Regions from separate parts of the Homo sapiens genome. Here all the other regions are linked to region 3. Evidence: fine-mapped expression QTL. A gene starts in region 3. Each other region holds a variant in brackets. All regions are shown on one strand. Distances are between the middles of the regions.

Region 1 (5,000 bases), 38 kb before region 3:
TAGTAGAGCACGGCCAGCACTGTCTGGGCACAGGCCTTGGCCGTGCCCGACACATTGTGGGTCAGCGGACTGGTGAACTTGATCTGCAGTCCTGTCACGTAGCCGATGGCAAAGCCAAACAGGCCGCCCAGCGTCATCATCCCCCAGAAGTGGGCACTGCCCAGCTGGGCAAAGTCACGCAGGGCCTGAAGCTCCCCGAGCAGCAGGAGCAGGGGCAGGAAGAGGATGCAGGCGTTGACGTTGTTGTAGAAAGTCAGGCGCCAGATGCTGCCGTCCACCGCCGGGAGCACCTTCGTGGTGTAGATGGCGTTGAGCGAGACACAGAGGCTAGCCAGCACGCCGAAGACGGTGCCCAGCCACGACAGGGTGCCTTCTGCCCCCTCCTGGTCCACACCAAGCCAGAAGCCCCCTGCAGTGGGGAGAGGAGGAGTGGGGAAGGGTGAGGAAGAGGGATGAGGACGAGGAGGAAGAAGGACAGAGGATCAGACACCAAATTTCACAGACTGAGTATTGCGGCCCTCCCCGTTCCTCCCCAGGCCTCCCTCCAATAAGCACAGCCAGAGTCTCCACTGCAGGCAAAGCACTCCACATGAACTATGGGAGCCGCCCAGGGCAAGAAAACCTCCTCTGGCAGCTTATCTGCTAGCAGAGGAGAAAGACATTAAAACAAATCTTCCCAGTTACTTCTTTAATTACAATTGTAAGAATTGTAATGAGGTCCATAAAGTAGTACAAGGTGCTGTGAGAGCCTGTAAGTGGGCGACTGTGCTGGCCTGGGGCATCTGAAAATAACAGTTGAACTGAGTTCTGAAGAATGAGTGCCACTTAGTGGTTAATGTGATTTAAGGTGACCCTGCGTAAATGACTTCCAGTGTCTAAGCCTTGGCTGCTTCTTGCATGGAATGGGAGCCTATGATGTCATCATGGGGCACATTAAGTTAGAATCTCTTGTGTCATTTGGGGCAGTGACTCTGAGACTCTCATCTTGTGTCACTTCCTGCTCAAAGAGCTTCCGTGGCTCCCCACTTCTGCCATGAGGACTACACTCCTTGGCGTGGCAGGCGGGGGTGCAGGCCCTTCCTCTGTCCTATGGTCGCCCCAGCTTCCCTGCTCGTCTCCCTGCTTCTCACCCTGGGCCTCAGTGTCCTTGTTCATGTCCTGTGCCAGAAACACCCTCCTCCTTTCTGGGGGATTCTACTCATCTGTCAAGGTCAAAGTTGGCTTCTCCTGGGGAATCCTTTCCTGATAATCCCAGAACCTGGACTCTTACTGCCTCGCTTTCCTGCAAAGCCCCTTGCCTGCTCTGGGCTGCTGGGCCCCTGCCCATGGTGACAGTCTGGTCTTTTTAGCCAGATCCCATGCTCCCAGAAGCCAGGGGCTGAACAATGCATGTTATACTTCCTGCCACAGCATCTGGCAACACGGGGCAGTGGGGAAAGTTTTGGGGTCAGAGGGATTTAGCCTCCAATCAGGCTCTGCAATTTAGAAGCTGAGTGGCCTGGGAGAAGTTACTTAACCACTCTGAGCTCTCTGGGTCACCTCCCTGTCCTCCACTCCAGCCAATCTACTCTCCACCTTGCAACTGATATGATCATCCTGAAGTCCAGATCGGTCCAGGCTGTGCCCTGGTGTGAAGCCTCTCTGTGGCTCTCCACTGCCTTCAGGAGAAATTCCACTCACTCACCACAGCTCTTAGGACCTGCACCACGTGGAGTCGGCCTGACTGGGCAGCCTTGTGTCTGGTGAGTCTTGCTGTGGCCCAGCCATGAAGAAGTGCACGTGCTCTTCCTTCTATCTAGAATGTTCTGTCCCTACTTCTTCCTCTAAACCCAGTTTCTAAACTTCCTCCAGAAGGCCTGCTTAGACTGCCCTGTCCCCGGGTCCCCTCCCTTGCCCAGAGCTCCCACAGCCCCTTTTATGCATGCCCCATCACAGCCCTTACTATGCTAGCGTAACTGTCACCACCATGCCCTCCAGGAGTGTAGGAGCTGAGGTTACCTTTTCCAAACTTGTATCCCCAAAGCCTGGCATGGTGCCTGGCATGTGTTTAGCCACCAATTACTAGTCGTGGAATGAATGAATGAAAGTTGTTATGGAGGTGGTTGTATTAAAGGAGACAGGATACTTCCTACATCATAGGCACTCAACACACAGCACTCTTCTCTTTTTCTCTTTGTTTTTTGAGACGGAGTCTCGCTGTGTCACCCTGGCTGGAGTACAGTGGTGCGATCTTGGCTCACTGCAACCTTCGCCTCCTGGGTTCAAGCGATTCTCGTGCCTCAGCCTCTTGAGTAGCTGGGATTACAGGGATGCGCCACCATGCCTGGCTAATTTTTGTATTTTCAGTAGAGAGGGGGCTTCACCATGTTGGCCAAGCTGGTCTTGAACTCTTGACCTCAGGTGATCTGCCCGCCTCAGCCTCCCCAAGTGCTGGGATTACAGGCATGAGCCACCATGCCCAGCCCAACCACAGAGCCCGACCCTCCTCTTTCTTGACAGAACCTTTGCACAAGGGGTACCCACAGACCTGCTGGGGG[T/C]AGGGTGAGGGGGGCAGAGGGCTGCACCACCCACTCACCTGCTTGGCTACAGCACCCCTAGCCCTCCTGGTGGTTACCTTCTGAGTCCAGAAGCAACTGCAACATCAATGTTCTAGAGCGACTCTTGCCCAGAAAGAACTTTTTTTTGAGACTGTGTCTTGCTCTGTCGCCCAGGCTGGAATGCAGTGGCGCGATCTTGGCTCAATGCAACTTCTGCCTCCCGGGTTCAAGCAATTATCCTGCCTCAGCCTCCCGAGTAGCTGGGATTACAGGCACATGCCACCACGCCCGGCTAATTTTTTGTATTTTTAGTAGAGACAGGGTTTCACCATGTTGGCCAGGCTGGTCTCGAACTACTGATCTCAGGTGATCCACCTGCCTCAGCCTCCCAAAGTGCTGGGATTACAGGCATGAGCCACTGTGCCTGGCCCAGAAGGAGCTTTGAAAGTTACTGTGTGACATGGGGGGCTAGGAGGGGAGGCCTAGAATAGTTGCCTGAGACTCGTCTTCCCCTACAAGGAGGAAGAAAGAGGAAACATTGCAGATAGGGAGCCAGGTCCTGGGCTGGCAGAGAGCGTCCACCTCCCTGGCCCCTGTCCCAGTCAGGCACGCCCGTGAATGCACCATTCTCAGAACCTCACCACTGGTTACTTGGATTACCTTTGGGATTTGGGCCCAGTTACCCTAGTGTCTTCACCTTCCTGCAAGCAAATTCTCCAACTAGGAGCCTCTACCCCTGAGGCCACTCCTGGCAGGGTCAGCAGGAATGAAGTAGAGAGCCCTGGGGCATCTGAGGAGGACAGGGAGGAGGGGAGGTACACCTGTTCCCTGGAGAGGGAAATGGAAGCAGGCTGGGAGAGTTCTGGCAGGGGGGGTCTTGCAGCTTCCCCTACTCTAACTGTGACCTTCTCCCTTCTCCCCTCTTGGACTTAGACCCAGCAGCCCTAGATCCAGCAGCTGCTCAACAAGGGGAAACATTTTCTAGGACAGGTGGCATGGGATGGGTCCCTTCCCCCACCAACCGGTGCATCTAGCCTGGGACCCTGAGCCATCAGCAAAGAATATGATATGTAGGCCAAATAAGATAAACTTTATAGCACCAGGAAAAACCAGCATAGGTTCAAATGAAGACCCCATTCCTAGATGACGCAGCCCTGGGAAGACTCGGAGGGAATGGGATGCTGGAGGCTCTCTAACGCAGCATGGGGCCCAGTAAAATATGGGCCCATCTAACCTGTGCTGTCCCATACCATAGCCCTCAGCCACATTTGGCTACTGAGCCCTTGAAATGTGGCTAGAAAATCAGGTTGTAACATCTGCAAATGAGGAAGTGAATGTTTAACATTTTGCTTAATTTTAACTAATTTAAATAAGTGGCCAATGGCTACTGCATTGAATACTGCAGTTCTAACCTCCAAGACGAGCAGAGGGGATAGAAGCACAGGCCTGGGAGTCTGGCCAATCTGGGTTTGCATCCCAGCCTGGCTGCTTGCTAGCTGTGTGGCCGTGGGCAAGTAATGTAACATCTCTGAGCCTCAGTTTCCTTGTTTGTATAGAGATGACCGCTGGTAGTGATGCCACAACCCAGGGGATCTCTGGGAGAACAAAGGAGATGCTATATGTGAAATAATTAGCATAATTTCCCCATCAATAATTATTATTTTCTGAGGGTCAAGTCCAGGAAGACAGCTGAGGCCTCTCAAAGCATATTGCTTGCTACTGTCTCAGGCGCTATCCTGAGCTGGCAGAGAGTGATGGTATATTTATTAAAAGACGTATTGTCCTCTACTAAGAGCACTGGCTGGGAAATCAGGACACCTGAGCTCTTGAGAAACAATAAAGTACAGTGGTCGGGCATGTGAACTGTGAAGCCAGATTGCTTGAGTTCAGATCCCAGCTCTGCCACTTATTAGCTGGGTGATCTTGGACAAGTTAGTTAACTTCTCTGTGCCTTGGTTTTTCCCTCTGTAAAATGTGGATTATAATCCCATCTTGTTATGAAGATTAGCTGAGTTAATATGGCTAAGATCCATGTGCCTGGCACATTTTAATCACTCAACAAATGTCAGTTGCTTTTGCTGCTGTTGTTACTATTATTATTACTATTGTTCTTGCCCCGGCTGGGCTCCTAACTTGCTGGGTGACCTTTAGTAAGTTACTTGCTCTCTCTGTGCCCCCAGGCTCTTTCTCCTATGACTGCTGCACCAAAGGAGCTGGGACAGATGAAGTCCTAGGATGCCTAGAAGAGTTGTTCTTCACTGCTTCAGTCCCCATGACCACTCTATCCCCCGTGGCCCCAGCTGCCACTCACCGATGATGATACCGCAGGTGAGCAGGGCATAGAAGGAGGTGGTCTGCTTGAGCAGCAGGTAGGAGAGCAGCACGTTGAAGACGGTGGTGAGTGAGCGGCCCACATTGTAGAAGGCCACACCGACGTACTTGAGGCAGAGGTTATTGAAGGTG
Region 2 (8,998 bases), 81 kb before region 3:
TCGAGTAGCTGGGACTACAGGTGCCAGCCAACATGCCCAGCTAATTTTTTGTATTTTTAGTAGAGACGGGGTTTCACCATGTTAGCCAGGATGGCCTGGATCTCCTGACCTCGTGATCCGCCTGCCTCGGCCTCCCAAAGTGCTGGGATTACAGGCGTGAGCCACCTCGCCCGGCAGAAAAGGCTGACTTTTCCCAATAAGCAGAGCAAAGCAAGATGGGAAATGTACCTTGCTAGACATGAAACCCCACCTCAAAGTCTTGGCCTAGAAGGAACCCTAATAAATCTGGCTGGCTTGAGCCAAGAAAACATTGAAGGAAGCCAGTGGCATCCAGAGTGGAATGACTTACCACATCCTATGTCTGGACTGAGCTGAGAGCTTTCCAACAAGACACTGGTTTCCCAGAATTTTTTTCCTTAACACAGTTTCCATTCCAAGAGCAAGCTAACTGGCTGCCTTTGCTCCCAACTTCTCTAGCAGCAACAGCCAGACCAGCCCTGATGTTTCCATTCCCTCAGTCGGAATATCATATCACTCAGGCTGTGGGGAAACCGTCAGGGACAGAATCTCACTGTCTTCTCTGGGGCTCTGCACGCTTACCTTGAACAGCCTTGGGAACACGTCGGCTGGCTGTCCCCGGACTACAAACAGGCGGGAGTTCAGTTTCCTTAAACTTGTGTCCAAATCTTCCAGAGACTGAAGTAGGAACCTGTGGAGTCCACACAGGCCTTGTTAGTGATAACATCATGAAGAGTGGCTCTCTTTCCTAACAAAGCAGGGAGAAACTGGTTCGCTGTTTATGCCCAACAGGCAGCCTCATGATCACTAGGGCTGGAGAGGCCTGGGTTCCAGCCCAGGAGGGATGTGGTAGTGGATCAGCGCTGCTCTGCTTCAAACCCTGGTCTTGCCACTTACTAGCTGTGTGACTTTAGGCAATAACCTAACCTCTTTGCCTGTTTTCTCGCCGGTAATGTGAAGCTGATGTTAGTACCCATCTCATAAAATTGCTAAGAAAAGAAAATCGAATAATGTGTGAAAAACATTTAGCACTGTGCCTGGCACACAGACATCATGAGATAAATGTGAGCTGTTCCTAGTGTGGTGTTTCTGTGTGATCAGAGGCTAGTCACTTACTCCCTCGCAGTCTCTGGGGCTAGATATAAGTATCTGCCCAGCATGAGGTTGTTGTGAGACTCACGTGGGAGCCATCTGAAAAGCCAGTGCAATACTGTGGTATGAAGCATTAAGGTCCTCTTAGCAGAGGACCAGACTGCCACAGCCGGGAAAATCCTCCTTACTCTGGTGGAAAAGACTCCTTGACTTTCTGCATGCATGCTCTGGGCCATGCGTATTTCTGCTGCCACAGCCTCACAGCCTGCAATGGGTCCCTAGTTCCCAGAGCTTTGTTTGGCAGGTGGCTCACTCTCCAGGCCTCTCCAGGGCTCTGGTGATCAGGTTCTCATCCCAAGAGGGAGAAGGCCTTAAAAGGTACTTCTCAATAGCTATCTTCACATTTTTGTGGGGGTGGGGGTGGGGAAGACCGCAGCTAGGCAAGAACTTCAGCAGGAGACCTGGATCACCAGGGGAAAGGGAAAGGACATTAACATTTGCTGAGTGCCTTCAGCGTTTTATTTTTAAATTAAATTAACATTATAACCAGATAAACTATTCATGTGGCTCAAAATTCCAGTGACAAAGTGGTACATAGTAGAAAGGGTTTTCCCCTCCCTCACTCCCCAGAGGCAACCAAGGTTATCAATGGGATTTTGGTTCTGTCATGCTTTTTAAGTGCATTTCTGCATTTAATTCTCTCAACTATTTTGAAGGAAATAGTACCATCCTTATTTTATAGATGAGGAAACTGAGACACTCAGAGGTGAATTAATTTGTCTAAGACCATAGCTGTTAAGTGACAAAGCTGGGGATTCAGGAACCTAGGGTGGTCACTCTGAAACCCACATTTTCCTCTCTGTGCCCTTTTTTATTTATTTATTTACTTTTTGAGACAGAGTCTCGCTCTGTCGCCCAGGCTGGAGTGCAGTGGCGTAATCTCGGCTCACTGCAACCTCCCCAACCCAGGTTCAAGCGATTCTCCTGCCTCAGCTTTCCGAGTAGCTGGGGTTATAGGTATGTGCACCACACCCAATTAATTTTTTAAACAATATTTTTAGTAGAGATGGGGTTTCACCATGTTGGCCAGGTTGGTCTTGAACTCCTGACCTCAAGTGATCCGCCCTCCTCAGCCATCCAAAGTGCTGGGATTACAGGCGTGAGCCACCGTGAGGGTTCTGTGCCCCATTTCTAAAGATTTCTAGTTGCACACCAACTCTGTTCCAGGGGCTGAGATTCTGCAGGCCCTCAGGAGTTTGGAATCCTGTTCTCTAATAGCAATGTGACTACAGGTAATCCACTGGCATTCTTATCTTCTTCTTCAAGAACCCACAGGTCAATCTGCATATGTCACAGATACCTCTGAGGCACCTGCTATCTACCCCTTGGGTCTCCACCCATCCCCAGCATTTTTCTCTGTCAACAATAGAAATGGCACATCACAGTCACATTCCCTGACTACTGGAGGCTTACAGAAGCAGTGACTATTCCCAGGCTGCCAACTAGAACCAGCCCCCACTGCTGCCTCTGACGTACACAACTTGACACACTCCTACGGCCAATGCCACCGACCCACATTCTAGCATGGGCTGAGCCCTGGCCTCGGCTCAAAGCATCATGTTTGCAAAAGAGCATGAGGAAGACTCTCTGAGAGGTTGGGATGGAAGACAAACAGGTTGAATGCTGCTTTATGCAAACCAAAAGCTCCACCTCTGTGAATTTCTGTTTTTGAAAAATTGTCACCTCCAGAAAAGGAACAGGGAGCTGCAAGTGCGTCACTTGTGTTGGCCTCCCCCAAGCCTCACCACTCTTCTGGAAGGAAAAGAAGAGAAATCCATGCAAATGGTCTCATGCCATCTGAAACCTGGACCCTGCCAGGTAGAATGCCTAGGGCTAGGAGCAGTGATTTAAATTTCATAACCCCAGGACACAGGGTCCTCCATCTGCAGCTCCCAGGAGTGTCCTTGCCATGCGCTTTGGGGGTCTTTTCCTTCACAGTCCACCAGGCTGCATAGGACTTTGATTTGAAGCTATAAATAAGGTTGGAATGCACATGAAATCTAGGTTCCAGAACATGTAGCAATCTGCCTTCTATAGAACTTTATTTTTAGACCTCATTTACTAAAAGGAGAGATTCCTCGTAGCATCTCTAAAGTACAGCTAATCCTATGAGAGCCCTTTTCTTCTTTCACAAAAGATGTTTATAGCAGGAAGCAGAGATGTGAGGCTGGTAGAAGGCCCAACTCTGAACCCAGCAACTAAATAAAAATAATGATAATAATGGCAATGATTAACATTTAATAAGCATTTACAATGACAGGCACTATTCTACTTGTTTCACATACATTACCTCATTTAATTCTCAAACAGCCCAATCAAGTAGGTAATATTATTATTCCCATTTTATAGATGAGGGAACTGAGGCATAGAGAGATTATGAAACTTGCCCAACATCATATACCTAGTAAGTGGCCAGAATTCAAACCTAGGCAATCTGTCAGGCTTGACATGTTCGTTTTTAGCCAGCCACTGCCTCTCAACAAACAGAGCACTGAGGCTGTGCTGCCCTGGGCTCAGCCATTAGGGAGCACCACAGGCCAACTCAAAGGCCAGCAACACCTCTGCTGCCAGATCTTTCCTCCTCTGAGTGTGGTCTGACAATCAGCAGCATTGGCTGTGAAACACCCAGGAGTCTGTTGAAATGCAGAATCTCAGGCTCTAACCCAGACCTCCAAAATTAGAATCTGTATTTTAGCAAGATCCCCTGGTGATTCATTTGCATATTAAAGTTTCACAAGCACTACTCTAGAAAACTGAACTTTACTTCTAGTCTCTGTTACAAGTTGCCTTTCTTTGCTTCTAGTTTGTTTGTACTAAACTTTCTCTCTTGAGCATCCATATTTCTGCCTCCCCTTTGGCCTGCTAGAAATGCTCTGCTTCTTCCAACTTCCCTCCCGAGTCAACCCGGGAAGGGAGGGCTCAGGACAGCCACCACACGGAGGCAATAGACAGGGATGTGAGGAGGGTCCCCAGTATCTCCAGACTCCAGGCAGCCAGAGAATGCAGAGAATGAGAAGCCACCACTAGGGTACTACCTTTGAGGCCTGCCAGGTGACAGCTGTCCCTCACATTTGGAGCAGTGCTGCGACTGGGCAAAGGCTCAGTGGGCAGGTATATGCATTCTTTCACCAGAGAGAACCTTGGGCCTTCTGTGGTCCCTTAGAACCCTCCTCTTTACTCCAATTTCTCTTTACTCCAATGAGGGGACTCTGAAGGAAACTGGCCTGGGCATTGGAGATGGTGGTGTTGGGGGCTGGCACTTCACCCTTGGCAGCTCTTAGCTGAGCTCACATGGCCAAAATTCAGAGCACATGGTCCTGGGAGAGCAAAGCTTACCCTTTGGATTAGACAACATGTGCAACTGAATTACATTATTATGTAAGTGCTCTGGAGCCAGAGGCAGGCAGAACTGGAGAAAACCAGACTGGGATTTCCAAAAATATAGAGAGGACACTATAACTCAGGGACTCTACAAGGCTAGCCTTTTAGAATAAAACAAGCAGATCCTTTGATTAAGTACTCATATTTAGGGAAGGCCTTCTCTAGGAATGGCTGATCCTGTGTTGAGGAATATTTTATTTATTTGTTGTTAATGGGGGGAGGGAGGATAACAGTGAATTCTTTTGGGTCCAGGCTGTCCTTGACCAAGTTCCTCTGCTTCAAGGCAAGGTTATCTAACAACGATGATGATACCACTGGCTGGCACAGATTGGCTACATAGGATATTAATAGAAATTAATTTTTCCTAAGTAATTAAGAGAGCTTAAGCCCCATGGAAAAGGATAACCTAAACTCACAATCTCTGGCAGGGATTTATTTCTAAGTATCTGAGTGATATTTAGAAATACTTAAATATTAAATTCTTATTATTTTAAAAATATATTTATTCTTTCCTAATTTCAAAGAGAAAGATGAAGGTTTTTATCCCCTTTGGGCAAACAGAAACATTTCCTTGGCAGCAGAACAGTAAAGTGCCTCTCTCAGGTACCAATGTGAATAGCTCAGAGAAGCTCCTGTTTCCCTGCCAGTAGACTAGCGTTCTCAATCCACTTCCCAACAGTCCAACAGTGTTCAGCTCTCAGCATCTGGGAAGAGAGACACACTTGTTCTCATGGGGCATCCTGGGAAGTTCCCAGTTTACCTCATTTACCAATTCTAAGAGAAATGGGCTGAGAGGGAACATATTTTATTTCTACAAATTCCCTCTGTCCCAGAAGCTCCTGAAAGAGGCGCAGCACAGAGCCAGGGACAAAATGATTTAAATAAAGTGGAAGAGGAACTGTTGCTAACACCTATCCAAGTTGCAGTGGGGAGAGAAAGGTAATGAAAAACCACAGAGGTCATTTTAAAATCTAGGAACTGCTCACATCTTCCTTTAGTTTATCTTCTTGCTGCAGTACCTCCTTCTAGATGTAGCAAATCTGGGGAAGGTGAGGCTGGGGAAAATGTGAAAGGGCTTAGCCAAGTAGCACTTGGAAAAAAAAAAAAAA[AG/G]TCCTGAGGCTCATATAGCTACAATTAGCCCGTAAACTTCCCACCATCACCAGGGCAAGAAGTATGCTAGGCTTCTTCTTGCTAATCAATATGTGTATTTCTTGGTTGCATTTCTCTGTCCGTTTTTACTCTTAGTGCCATTCATAGTTATTTTAATCTGATTTCCTCTGCAGAAAAACATTGTGTGGGAGTCAGTGTAGAAGGAGCAGGAGGGAAACAGAGTCACAGATTTTGGGTCCTCCCCTCCTTGCAGATGGTCCCTTGCCCTTCCCAGGGAGGCTTCTCAGAGACAACTTAAGCAGTTGCAGAGCTAGGACATTATGCTGCAGCACAATTCTCTTAGACCACTCTTGGAATCCAGAAACAACCACGGGACGATTACACATACTACAGTCATGTCAAGATATGGCTGGCTCCAGCCCTCCCCTCTATCCCCAACTTTGTGCACAAAAGAGAATGCAGCTCTGCCTTCAACTGATCCAGGAAGCAAGCAGAATGGTGGAGGTGGTAGGAGTGTGTCTGTTTCCAGGCCCAGGAGCAGTTATTATATTCAATCTGTTTGTGTTACTTCATCTCTTTCTTCTGAATGCCAACATTAATTAGACTTCCTGCCAATGCACTGCAACATACTTCCTAGGTTGCCCGTCTCAGGACTGAGGTTCTCTAGTCCAGTGCTTCTTAAGCTTTGCTGCAATAAGAGCTTTAAAAACCTTAATGCCCAAGGCCGGGCACAGTGGCTCATACTTGCAATCACAGCACTTCGGGAGGTTGACGCAGGTGATTGCTTAAGCCCATGAGTTCAAGACCAGCCTGGAGAACATGGTGAAACCCCATCTCTACAAAAAATACAAAAATTAGCCAGGCATGGTGGTGCATGCCTGCAGTCCCAGCTACTTGGGAGGCTAAGGCAGGAGGATCGCTGAGCCCAGGAGGTCAAGGCTGCAGTGAGCTATGATCATGCCACTGCATTTCAGCTTGGGTTGTCACTTGAGCAGGACCCCGTCTCAAAAAAAAAAAAAAACAAAAAACAAAACAAAACAAAAAATCCCCAAACCTTAATGCCCAGGCCATAACCCAGAACAATTCTAACAGAACTGGGAGAAAGGGGCTGGGCACAGTGGCTCATGCCCTGTAATCCCAGCAGTTTGGGAGACCAAGGTGGGCAGATCACCTGAGGTCAGGAGTTTGAGACCAGCCTAGCCAACATGGTGAAACCCTGTCTCTACTAAAAATACAAAATAATTAGCCAGGTGTGGCGATGGCCACCTGTAATCCTGGCTACTTGGGAGACTGAGGCAGGAGAATTGCTTGAACCCGGGAGGTGGAGGTTGCAGTGAGTCCAGACTGCGCCATTGTACTCTAGCCTGGGCAACAAGAACAAAACTCCGTCTCAAAAAAAAAAAAAAATAGAATTGGGGGAAAGGGGCCCAGGTATCTTTTAAAGACCCTTATGGGATTCCAATGCACAGCAGCCAAGATTGAGAACCACTGCTCTAGTCTGTCCCCTTATCTTATGTTTCTCATGGCACTTCGTTTCACTAAATTATGGTTGTTTGTTGGTAAAATGTAGGCTCCAGGAGTTCTGGAGCACAGACACATCTGCTTATTCACTGCTGTATCCCTAGCAACATCTAGAGCAGTACCTGGCAGATATTAGGCACTTATTAAGTGATCAATTAATATCTGCATTCTTACACAGCCTCTGACTTCAGGATTTGACTCAGGCATCTGAGCCACATTCCTTTTCTTCTTCACTAGATTGATAGCACGATCACAAAATGATGACCCACAAAAATCCATAAACACCTGGTTCCTAGCAAACTGGAGTTTAATCAACAGGAATTTTATTGTTGATTTTTAATCTTCCCTATCAAAAAAGAGTAGGCAGTACTATGCAATGTCCCCCAAAACCCAATAAAAGAAGAAACTCTGTGACAATGTAACAAGAAGGTAGTCGGATTCCATTTGCCTGGCTCCGACTGGTGCAGGGCAAAGTCTGAGGCTTGGCTTAATGTGCACACTAGGGATGGTCATTTGATGATGCTTGTCAAACCCAACCTCCTATCTGTAGAAAACTGGAGCAGAGACAGAGCAATAAGGCAGCCTGAAAACTGTGGGCAGGCTCTCCACAGGACTCCTTAGTTGTTCCTTCTGGGCAGGAGGGGACACTGAACAGGCCCACTGCTAGCAGCACTCACTCTCTTAGCAGGGCACACACCTTGGAGAGAAAAGAATGGTGTGCCGAGAGCCACGGTATCCTGGAAATAACCCTGTCCATCGATGCAACAAGGCCACAAGCAAACATTCCCCAGAACAATGCAAACAAACCGAGCGACTGCCACTAGGTGTTCTGAAGAGCGATGGGTACATTATGTCTCAAAACTCTTTAGTTTGAATACTGTTTACAGTGAAAATACACTAACGACCTGTTCATCTTTTTCCATGATCATGTCGACTCCATCTCCTGGGGGGTCATCAGAGGGGCCCTTGATATCATGGCTTTCCTGCTCCCTAACCTTACCACAACAGTTCATAAAAGTCTCATCTCTAATGGCTCTACTGTCCTCTAAAATCATGACAAGAGGATGACGGGGTGACACTTTGGATTCTTTTAAATTTTTCTATCGAGGTCAAAGCTCCAGAGCAGGGCTTAAAACATTTTGGAGAATCCCCTGGATTCTCTGGAGCTTTGAACATAAAGCGACTCCACCTGAAGACGCCTTTGGCTTCTTTATTTATAATATAGGGGAGAAGACCTTATTTAATGCTAAGCCAGGGTCACTTGACACCCCTAGAGGCAGGACGGTCTGGGTGCAGGGTAGCCAGGATGGGTGGTAGGGCGGATTCAAACGAGCCAGAGGCTTCGGAGTGATCTCCCCGAGCCCAGCAACGGGCTCTTGAAGAATGCGAGCAAAAACCCGTCCCGCCCTCACACTACGTTATCTCCCTTCCGCCCCTCCCTGAGTAGACCGTAAGAGCCCTAGACCAGGAGCCCCTGTTCTGCCACTCACTGGCTACAAGTCCTTGGGCAGGTCGACTTTGGGTCTCCAGGGCTCAAGGGTCTCATCTGTACAACGGGGATCATGATCTCCGTTCCACAGGCAGTTGTGAGGCTCAAAGGGGTAACAGTGCGAACGCGCTTTGTCAGAGGCTGAACCCTGGCCCACCGGCGCGTTAGGACCATGACGAATTACTTCCCCGGTCTCGGCTTCTCCCCTCTGGCCTTCCAGCCGTGGCGGGGTTGGGGGGATCGTGCTGTTCGCCGGTCACCCCAGGGTCAGGGTCCTGGCTGCGTCCCCGCCACCCAGCCCCGGGTCCCCTCACCTCCATCGGTTGA
Region 3 (10,057 bases):
TTCTATGTGAGTTTTAGACATCTTGCCGGAAGCTAGGCCATGATAAGGATCCCATCTCCTTTCCCCTGTCCTTATGATCAAAAGCCCCTGCTTCCCCATATTTTTTCTCATTCTAAAGCAGGGTCAGAAAGAGCCAGAAATGACTGAGTCTCTAGGTGGGAGGCTGGAGGCAAGCAGAAGAGGGGCTTGGGGGAGAGGGGAAGGGAGGCAGAGAGGGGAGGGAAGTGTGGGCCTGAGGTAGAGTCCTTTCTTTTATTTTTGTAGACTTAGGTTATTCACTGTGAGAGTCCTTTCTTTTTGCTTTGTTTTTTGAGAGAGATTCTTGCTCTGTCACCCAAGCTGGAGCGCAGTGGCGCGATCTCGGGTCACTGCAAATTACACCTCCTGGGTTCAAGCGATTCTCCTGCCTCAGCCTCCCGAGTAGCTGGGACTACAAGTGCCTGCCACCATGCCCGGCTAATTTTTGTATTTTTAGTAGAGAGGGGGTTTTGCCATGTTGGTCAGGCTGGTCTCGAACTCCTGGCCTCAAGTGATCCACCTGCCTTGGCCTCCCAAAGTGTTGGGATTATAGGCCTGAGCCACTTGCCCAGTGAGAATCCTTTTCTGACTGCATGGTTTGGCCCTGAGTGGACACTTGGAATTCAGGCTACAGGCCGGGAAAACATTACCATCCTTGCACCTGCTGGGTGGGCGCCCATTCTGTCCGACCAGGAAACAGGTCCCAGCACCCAGGTGCTAGGCATACAGCGAGGATAGCCTGGGTGTCTCCTGCTCTCAGGACCACCTTGTCTGGTGGGAGACATGCATATGTAGAAACATGGGAACATGGCAGAAGAGGCAGGAATGGAGCTGGGGGCTTTGGACCTAGGGCAGGCATGGCTGAGCTAGGCCATTTCATTCTCTCCTCCTGAAGAATGGCCCCCTTCCTTCTGCTATTGTTCTGTGGAGTCCTTCTCTGGTGCTTGGGAGCCCAGCCAGCAGTAGCCTCAGTGACCCCAGGGACAGGCCCCCACAACAGCAGAGGAGAGAGAGAGGGACCGGGGTGTTGGCGGCGAGGCTGGTGTGGAGATAGGGAGATGAATGTCTTAGCTGGAGGAGCTGGAGAAGTCCAGGCTGCCCATTTTTCAGAGGGGAAAGCTGAGGCCCTCATAGAGCAAGGGATTGTCCAGGGAAAGGAACGTGAGTATCGAGGAAGAAAAACCTGGGGGGCAGGGGCCCAGAAGAGAAGGCAGATCCCTCTCCACCCCACCCCAGGCAGGAAGCCCAGGCTCCAACCACCGCCTTTGGGCCAGGCACCTCTGCTGTCCTCTGAAGGGGTGGGGAGGATGAGTGTGGCTTCTGGCCCACTGGACATGCTTGCAAGGCACATTTGCAGATTTGCTGCTGCAAGGGGAGGGGTGGGCTGGTGGGGAGGTGCCGGCCTGATGGGGCACCTGGAGGGTGGAGAGACCCCTAGGCTCCTGTTTACTCCCCCTCAAGTCTCAGAGGCAGCCCAGAGGCAGAAGGAGACTTGATGGACACTTGCGCAAAGTCAGGGCTGGACCGGGCAATTCCACATGCAGTTCTCCTGGCTGGTGAATTCTTGAATTAGTGGGAGGGCAGGTTCACTCTCCAAAGTTGGACCATAAATTCTCCGAGGGGCAGGATCGCCTCACCCGGACACTGGCCCTTATACATCCCAGGGTACCAGTAAATGTACGCCTCATCCAGTCGCTTTTCTAACTGCAACAAGAGCGAAGGAATATTTATTGGGCACTTACTCTGTTCTAGACACTATCACAGCAGGGACTGCTTTTCATTCTGGCACCAATTCTGGGAAGTAGATGGTATTATTATCCCCATTTGACAGAGGTGGAAACTGAGGCCCAGAAAGGTGAAGTGCCTTGCATAGAGACTTGCTCAAGGTCACATGCAAATGGAATCAGGACTGGAATCCAAGTGGGTTCAGAGCCTGCCCTGAATGCCCCACTTTTCCTCCTTCCTAGGGCCCGTGGCACTCTTTCTGGGGCCAAGCTCAGGCCAAGCTGAAGGAGCCATTCTGGAAGCAATTCTGGGCAGACGAAGGCCAAGAAGCCAATTCACAGCGGTTGTGCTGACGAGTTTCTTGGCAATGTGGAAAGTCTGACGATCTTACAAATGTGTGAAACTGAGACTCAATTTTCCCTCATCCTACCTCCCCTTTCTACCCACCCTCCAACATGGATCTAAATATGGATGCTATATTGGGGGAGTAGCCCCCCTCTCTAGACTGCAAGAGAAGATGACGTTGGGGAGGAGGTGGGGCCAGCCAAATTGGGCAAGAGCGGCCTCAGATGATGCTGCCTCCAAAAAGGTCCCTGTGTAAGTATGAGGTGGGTGGCTGAGATTTCTGAAATCCGTATCTGAGATGACTAGGTGGAGTCATACATTTCCACCCTTCTGGGGTTAAGGACACAGCCTTAACCATTTAGGGTGACCATTTAGGGTGAAGTCACTGTTTATGGGAGTCTAAACTGTGACTTTGGCAAGGTGCAATATAAAAATGCTAATACATGTTTATGCACTAAGCTGGAAATAATGCCAAGCCCCTCAGTTAAAAAAAAACCTGTCAAGAATTGCAGTTTCCTTGAGTCGGAGGAACTAAGTGAGCTGTTAAATGAGGACTGTAAACCTGCCACATGGCGACGTTGCTTTGGTTATTAAATAGAAATACCTGCTTTCTATATGCATGCACTGTTGTTTACATGCCTCTGAATTTCTAATTTCTGCAGGAGATTCTGGTGACTGGTGTGCCATTTTCTCAATGTTCACAGTTATTATAACTTTAAATATTTTACCCATATCCTGTAACAATGTCATCCAAGTGTTCTTTAAGTGGTGGTGCTGAAAAACGCACCTGAAAATCGATAACATTGGAAAGGAAGTGAGATGTGATAAAACGTTATGAAGAAGGCCAAACCACCGGCAGGAAATGCTGCACTGTTAATTTAGCAGAGAGTGCGTTATGAAATATTAGCGATAATGCCAGGGAAATAAAAAGCAGCATTAAGGCAAAAATATGCCACAATTGGAGTAATGTATGCAACCTATCCTTTCTACTTTGCATTCATTTCTCTGGCAAAATTAGTCAGAAATTATGCACGCTTTGAATTATGCAAGTTTTTCAGGACCACATGCTTTGCATAAAACTCTACTGCCCTGAGGTTCTCAGTGGGTGGAAGAATGAGTGACCATATTCTAGGGTTATCTTAGGCCAGGCCGTTGTACCCTCCTGTCCTAGGTGGGGATGAAGTGACCTCATGTGTAAAATGGGACCGTTGGACTGGCTTGTCTTTCTTTCCTTATTAGACTATGTCGAGACAGGCACCATTATATTTCTGCCCCAAAGGTGTCTTTTTCTGGACGGATCCCACAGCTGATACCAAACTTGTCTTTATTAACTGTGAGGCTGGCCATTCAAACACCAGGTGCCAGAGAGGGTCCCTCACTCATCGGAATCCGGGTGGGATGAATCCTCGGAGGCAAGGTCCCTCCACCTTCACCCTAGAGTCACACAGAGACTTGCCCTGGCGGCTGGTGACAGGTGGGCGGGAGAAGAAAAGGCCCCTGGGGAGCAGGAGAAAGCCAGGTGCCATGGGGACCCAGCGCCGCTGGAGGGCAGCACCAGCACACAGCTGAGGCCGCCTCTCCCGGAGCCCGGAGGGAGCTGGGTTCCGGTCGCCAGCGGTGCCCGGGTGAGCAGTTCACCCTCACGTCCCTGCTCTGACGAAGTTTCCATTCTTCTGGAGAAGACAAAATAAACGTGAACAAATGAACAAGTGTGCATTGTCAGGCAGCAAGTGTTGGTACAAACAAGATAGTGGTGGGGGTGGGGACACCGTTAAATAGGGGCCAGGGAGGCCTAACCCGGGAGGGGATAGCTGAGATGCCACTTGAGTGGAGAAAACAGTCCGAGATCTGAAGGTGTTCATGGAGAGGGGAAGGGGCCCCTAGAGGAGTCGGGAAAGCCTGGGTCAGGGAAGACGAGAAAACTGAGGAACAGAGAAGCCAGGTAACTTACCCAGGGTCATAGAGCCGGTGAGCTGGGGACAGCGCCTGTCAACGCCCCAGAGCCTTCCACGGCACTGGTTTCTCCGACCTTCCTCTCTAAACAGGACCGTGACAGTGACAGTTTCTGCCCCACTCCCCATTTCTGACCGCAGTCCCCATAAGGAAACAGGGCAGGGATCACTGGCTGTGAGCCCAGCAAGTCCCCTCCCGTGGCTTTCTCAGTTATTAAATGGAAGGGTGGGTCCCCCCATAACTCCGAAGCTCCCCTCTCTAAGCGTCCGCGGGCCGGGAACGCCTGAATTCTGGCTCCCGAGCACCTTCTTGTGGACAGTTTTGGAATCACACGCTCAGCGAGAAAGGGTCGTGGGAAAATGGTCTGTGCTAATTTCGGAGAGGCCAGTGGATTGGAAGGTTATCACTGAGGGTGGGTGCACGTGTGTGTGTGTGTGCGCGCACGTGCATGCGTGCATGCATCTGTGTGCCTGTGTGTGTTGGTCTGTGTGTGAATGTACCTCTGTGCGTATCTGTGTGTATGGTTGTGTGTGAGCACATACTGCCCGAGCCTGTGTGTGTGTGAGTGTGTGTGTGCACTAATGTTTGTTTATATGGGCACAGGCACACACATGTCCATGTCCATGTGTGTGTACCTGCATCTGTATTTTTTCGTCTGGTGTATGGGCTTGTTTTTGTGTGCCTGCATGCATGTGCCCATGTGCGTGTGTGTTTTGGGAACTGGGACACAGAGGATGATATGAGAAGTCCCCAGTCTTTCTCACAAAGGCCTAACCACTCTCCCTGAAGCCAGCTTTCTCCCCTACTTGCTTCTGTCTGCACCATCACCTGAGTTCTCCCACCTGAACTTTTCACCGACATTTTTGATGATTTTTCTGTTTTGTGTCCGTTGAGGCTCATTTGAATGTTACAGATCATAGCTCAAGAAATGATTCTCAGGCCGGGCATGGTGGCTCATGCCTGTAATCCCAGCACTTTGGGAGGCTGAGGCAGGTGGATCGTCTGAGGTCAAGAGTTCAAGACCAGCCTGGCTAACATGGTGAAACCCCGTTTCTACTAATAATAACAAATTAGCCAGGTGTGGTGGCGTGTGCCTGTAATCCCAGCTACTCGGGGGGCTGAGGCAGGAGAATCACTGGAACCGGTGAGGCAGAGGTTGCAGTGAGCTGAGATCCCTGGGTGACACAGCGAGACTCCGTCTAAAAAAAAAGAAAGAAAGAAGTGATTCTCCTCTAGTCTACTCACCCAAATCATGAGTTTCACTTCTCAGGTGGGCTGATCACCCACTGTCCTGTTGAGACCTGGGGACTTGTACAAAGTCGTACCCTGGAGGGTTGAGCAGAAAACCAGGCACATAGTAACTAAGACAATGGCGCGTTAGCAAAGCACTCCACACATCCCGTTCACATGTGTGTCTTACTTGACTCACAAACTGATCTTTCATCCTTTTTTTTTTCCTTTTTTGTGGTGAACAGGGTCTTGCTATATTGCCCAGGCAGGTCTCAAACTACCGGCTGATCTTTCAAGCCTAGGCAAGGTGAGGCTAATTATTCCCATTTTACAGATGAAGACACTGAGGCTCAGAGAGGGAAATAATGAAAATAGTACTGCAGGAACCATCTAACCAATATGCAAACTCTCTCATCCAGTTTTCATAACATCATCAATTCCCTTCTTTAAAAGACAAGGAGATGGAGGCTTTAAAAATGTAAGGCGAGTGCTTAATGCCATATAGCCAATCAGTAGTTGAGGCAGGATTTGAATCTCGCTCCAGAGATTAAAGCCCAAGTCCTAAACACAATGGCAGGCGTGAGGGCCCTGGGCACACACTGACTCAAGCTCTTTCAGCCACACACTGTCCCTTTGCCATGCCTCTGGGGTCCTAAGAACATCCTCCTCTGAGCCCACAGGGAGGTCATTCCCCATCCTGGGTGCCCCTGCTCCTCTCCCAGATGCGGGGCAGGTGAATCTTGTAACCTGTGTCACTCTCAGAGGCTGAGATGGGGACTGAGCATTAATTATGCAATAACCTCGCTGTGGTGTGCCTAATTGTCTGATAACCATAATTGAATCTTATGGATTACACCAACATTATTGCAGGGAGCAGCTTAAGGCAGTTAACAGAAGCTGCACTCACTTTGTGATATCTTCCTCCTGTCTCCTTGCTGGCTGGGCTGTGAGTCCTTTCCTGGGGGCTGAGGGAGGCCTCGAGGTGCAGGGGGCAGGCAGGAGGTGAGTGACAGCACAAATGTCGCATCACCTTATCCCCCCGAGGGCACCATCTTCCTGGCTGAGAAAAGTCTGTGTGGCAGGTGGAATTATCATTTTGTAAATGAGAATGTGGCATCAGAAGGCTGAGAGACTCTCCCAATTTCAGTCTTGCTCATTGCTACTGGTCCTTGCTAGCATCATCTGGGACTGTTTAGACGTGCAGCATCTCAGCTGGGCTCGGTGGCTCACGCTTGTAATCCCAGCACTTTGGGAGGCCAAGGCGTGTGGATCATGAGATCAGGAGTTTGAGACCAGCCTGACCAACATGGTGAAACCCCGTCTCTAAAAATTAGCTGGGCATGGTGGTGCGTGCCTGTAATCCCAGCTACTCAGGAGGCTGAGGTAGGAGAATTGCTGAACCTGGGAGGCGGAGGTTGCACTGAGCCGAGATCACGCCACTGTACTCCAGCCTGCGTGACAGAGCAAGACTCCGTCTCAAAAAAAAAAAAAAAAAAAAAGAAATGCAGCATCTCAGGCCCCACCCTGGACCTACTGAATCAGAAGCTGCATTATTTTTTATTAAATGAATTTTTTTTCTTTAAAGAGATGAGATTTTGCTCTGTCTTCCAGGCTGGAGTGCAGTGGTGCGATTGTGGCTTGCTGCAGCCTCGAACTCCTGGGCTTGAGAGATCCTCCAGCCTCAGCCTCCCTAGTAGCTGGGACTACAGTCGGAGCCACCATGCCTGGCTCTCAGAATCTGCATTGTAATAGCATCTCAGGTGATTTATTTTCACGTTGCCGTTTGCTGAGTGCTGGTTTATGTAATTATTTATTCATTGCCTATGTGGGATCCATTGCCCTTTCTTGTGTCAGCAACACCTTGACTTCCATTTGGGAAATAACCCTTCTTCCCATATGGGAGACCCCTAGCTGTACCCTTACTCCTACCTCCCTCAGGCATTGACCCCAGGCCAGGCCAATGAGTCAGTTCCAAGATCTTTGAGGCACTGTTGAGGAAGACGTGTTTGATGGAGTTTTGCTGAGGCTTCTTCATTCCCTCCCTCCCTTGCATGGTTCACTGTGGGTGAATATTCTTCCCCACACCATCCATGGTGAGCTCAGCCACTGACTTGCTTTGGTCAATGGAATGTCGGTAGAAGTGATGATGTGTGGGTTCCAAGCTAGGCCTTAAAGAAGTATCTTGTGTTTCCGCTTGCCCCTCTAGAGCTCCTGCCCACCATGAGAAAGGAAGGTACACCCAGGCGACCATGGCACCTTCATCTGGAGTCCAGGATGGAGACTGTGGGGCAAATTGAACCTAACCAGAGACTGGAGTCCAGCCTAACTCTGATATTAACAACCCCCCAACTAACCTGCAGACCCATGAGTATGAAAGGAATGGTTGTTATAAGCAACTGAGATTTTCAGAGTGCTTGTTGCATGGCATTGGTGCAGCAGACACCTGACTGGTATAAAAGACATACTTTCTTTCCAGGGGGATTGCTAAGCTGAATTTGGATTTTAGGTGTTATCTTGTCACTAGGAAAGCAGGGCCTGCCTAAGGGCAAAACCAACCCAGAGGGAAATGGAGCTGAGATAGGATGAGAGCCCTGATCATGATGACAGCCTTTGTTTTCATGGATCCAGCCTCACAGGAGTTAGTCAACTCTTTCAGTCTCAAGGAGTAGAGAGCTGAAACTTCGCTGGCTTAAACCCAAGAAGGAATTAGCGGCTCACATAGCTCAGAAGTCTGGAGGTGATGTGGGTTTCAGGTGAGGCTTGAATCAGTAGCCCCTGGACCAGTGTCCTTGTCTCTCCACTCTGGGTCCCATTTTGCTGGTTTCATCTGGAGGCTGGCTCCCCTTTGTGATATCGTAAAATACATATTGAGTTGTTGTCCACATTTCCTGGCATGTTACTCCTAAAATCTATGGAATCTCCAAAGTGGTAAGTGTCTTTTTGTATGCTAATGAGTTGACAGTTGGCTGGCAGCCCCTAGGTAGCTTGAGGATGGGGGCTACTCCAGAAAGTTCAAGGCAGGATTAGAGGACTGGGGCTTTCAGCCCCACTCCCATTCTCTCTTAGAGGGGAGAGGGGCTGGAAGTTACGTTGATCACCAATGGCCGATGGCTTAATCAATCACGCCTGTGTAATGAAGCCTCCATAAAAACCCTGAAGGACAGGGTCTGGAGAGCTTCTGGACAGCTGGACACACGGGGCTCCTGGAGGATGGCGCTCTGCTCCCCCATACCTTGCCCTATGCATTGCCCATCTGTGTCCTCTGTGGTATCCTTTATAATAAGTGAGTCAACGTGTTTCCCTGAGTTCTGTGAGCTGCTCTAGCAAATTAATCCAACCAATGAGGGGATTGTGGGAACCTCAATTATAGTCAGTTGGTCAGAAGCACAGCTAAAATACTCTGGGACTTGTGATTGGCATCGGGAGAAGGGGAGCATCTTGGGGACTGAGTCCTTAGCCTGTGGAACCTGACGCTATCTCCAGGTGGGGAAGTGAACTGAATTAGAGGACACCGAACTGGTGTCTGCTGCGTAATTGATTGCTTGCTTACTATGTGGGAACGCCTCCCCAAACACCCATCTGGTGTAAGAAGCCCACTGTGAGTGTATAGTGGGAGAAACAGTCTGCTTATCCATGTATTCTCAGACCCTCATTGGAGCACGATGGCGTCCTTGTTCGGGTCTAACAGGAGAGAGAGTGTTTGTTCTGGAAGCGAGGAAGCTTCTTTCTCAGGAGCTGGCAGCAAATGTCTCAGGTCTCATGGCCTCAGGTCAGGTCACATACCGTCCCTGCACCAATCTCAGAGGCTGGAGACAGAATGTGCTGATGGGCCAAGGCTGGCTGGCTGGGGGGCAGGTTAGTGTCACTGAACAGCACAGAGCCTCAAGAGAAATAGGGCTTGGCCTGAGGAGAGGTGTTGGGGATGCTGGCTGGGAAGACGCAGGAGTTCCCTATTGCTGCTGTAAAACAGCATCACAAACGTGGGGGCTTAAAGCAACAAACATTTATTCTCTCACTTTTTTTTTTTTTTAGATGAAGTCTTGCTTTGTCGCCCAGACTGGAGTGCAGTAGATTGATCTCAGCTCACTGCAACCTCCGCCTCCCGGGTTCAAGCGATTCTCCTGCCTTAGCCTCCTGAGTAGCTGGGATTACAGGCTCCCACCACCATGCCCGGCTAATTTTTGTATTTTCAGTAGAGACAGGGTTTCACCATGTTGGCCAGGCTGGTCTCGAACTCCTGACCTCAAGAGATCTTCCTGCTTCAGCCTCCCAAAATGCTGGGATTACAGGCATGAGCCACTGTGCCCAGCCTATTCTCTCACATTTTTTGAGGCTAGAATTCAGACAAGGTGGGGCAAGGTTGGTTCCTTCTGGAGCTTCTGGGGGAGAATCGGCTCCATACCTCGCCCAGCTTACAGTGGTTGCCAGAAGCACTTGGTGTTCCTTGGCTTGTAGCCACATCACTCCAATCTCTCCTTCTGTTGTCACATGGTGTATGACACATGCCAACACAAACAACTCATTTCTTTTTTTTTTGTATTTTTTGTAGAGATGGGGTTTTGCCATGTTGCCCAGGCTGGTCTTGAACTCCTAGACTCAAGTGATTGCCTGCCTCGGACTCCCAGAATGCTGGGATTACAGGCGTGAGCCACCATGCCCCACCAAGCCACTGTGGTCAGCCCACATGGCCTTCTTACAAAAATACCTGTCATTGGATTTAGTGGCCACCCTAATCCAATATGACTCCATCTTAATTTAACTAATGACATCTGCAAAGAACCCATTT

What was found. PIP is the estimated chance that this variant, and not a neighbour inherited with it, causes the effect.
Region 1: its variant is fine-mapped to the expression of LINC02716 in hippocampus (GTEx, PIP above 0.99). The same link has a PIP of 0.9 or more in amygdala, anterior cingulate cortex, aorta, breast, hypothalamus and lung.
Region 2: its variant is fine-mapped to the expression of LINC02716 in prefrontal cortex (ROSMAP, PIP 0.95).

The regions. Positions count from the first base shown.
Region 1 is chr11:45,806,185-45,811,184 of GRCh38, reverse strand. SLC35C1 (solute carrier family 35 member C1) reads right to left here. Exons shown (of 2, transcript NM_018389.5): 1 at 4,849-5,000; 2 at 1-409. Among named protein-coding and RNA genes, the nearest start is that of SLC35C1, 3.5 kb to the right of the region's middle. RefSeq lists an enhancer at 3,758-3,817. The variant T/C (reference allele first, on the strand shown) is at 2,538.
Region 2 is chr11:45,847,693-45,856,690 of GRCh38, reverse strand. CRY2 (cryptochrome circadian regulator 2) reads right to left here. Exons shown (of 12, transcript NM_021117.5): 1 at 8,986-8,998; 2 at 601-709. Among named protein-coding and RNA genes, the nearest start is that of CRY2, 4.7 kb to the right of the region's middle. RefSeq lists enhancers at 3,953-4,092, 8,504-8,998, 8,956-8,998 and silencers at 4,079-4,373, 8,446-8,555. The variant AG/G (reference allele first, on the strand shown) is at 5,661.
Region 3 is chr11:45,765,697-45,775,753 of GRCh38, reverse strand. LINC02716 (long intergenic non-protein coding RNA 2716) reads right to left here and starts at 4,322. Exons shown (of 2, transcript NR_027134.1): 1 at 4,040-4,322; 2 at 3,396-3,761. RefSeq lists an enhancer at 4,129-4,630.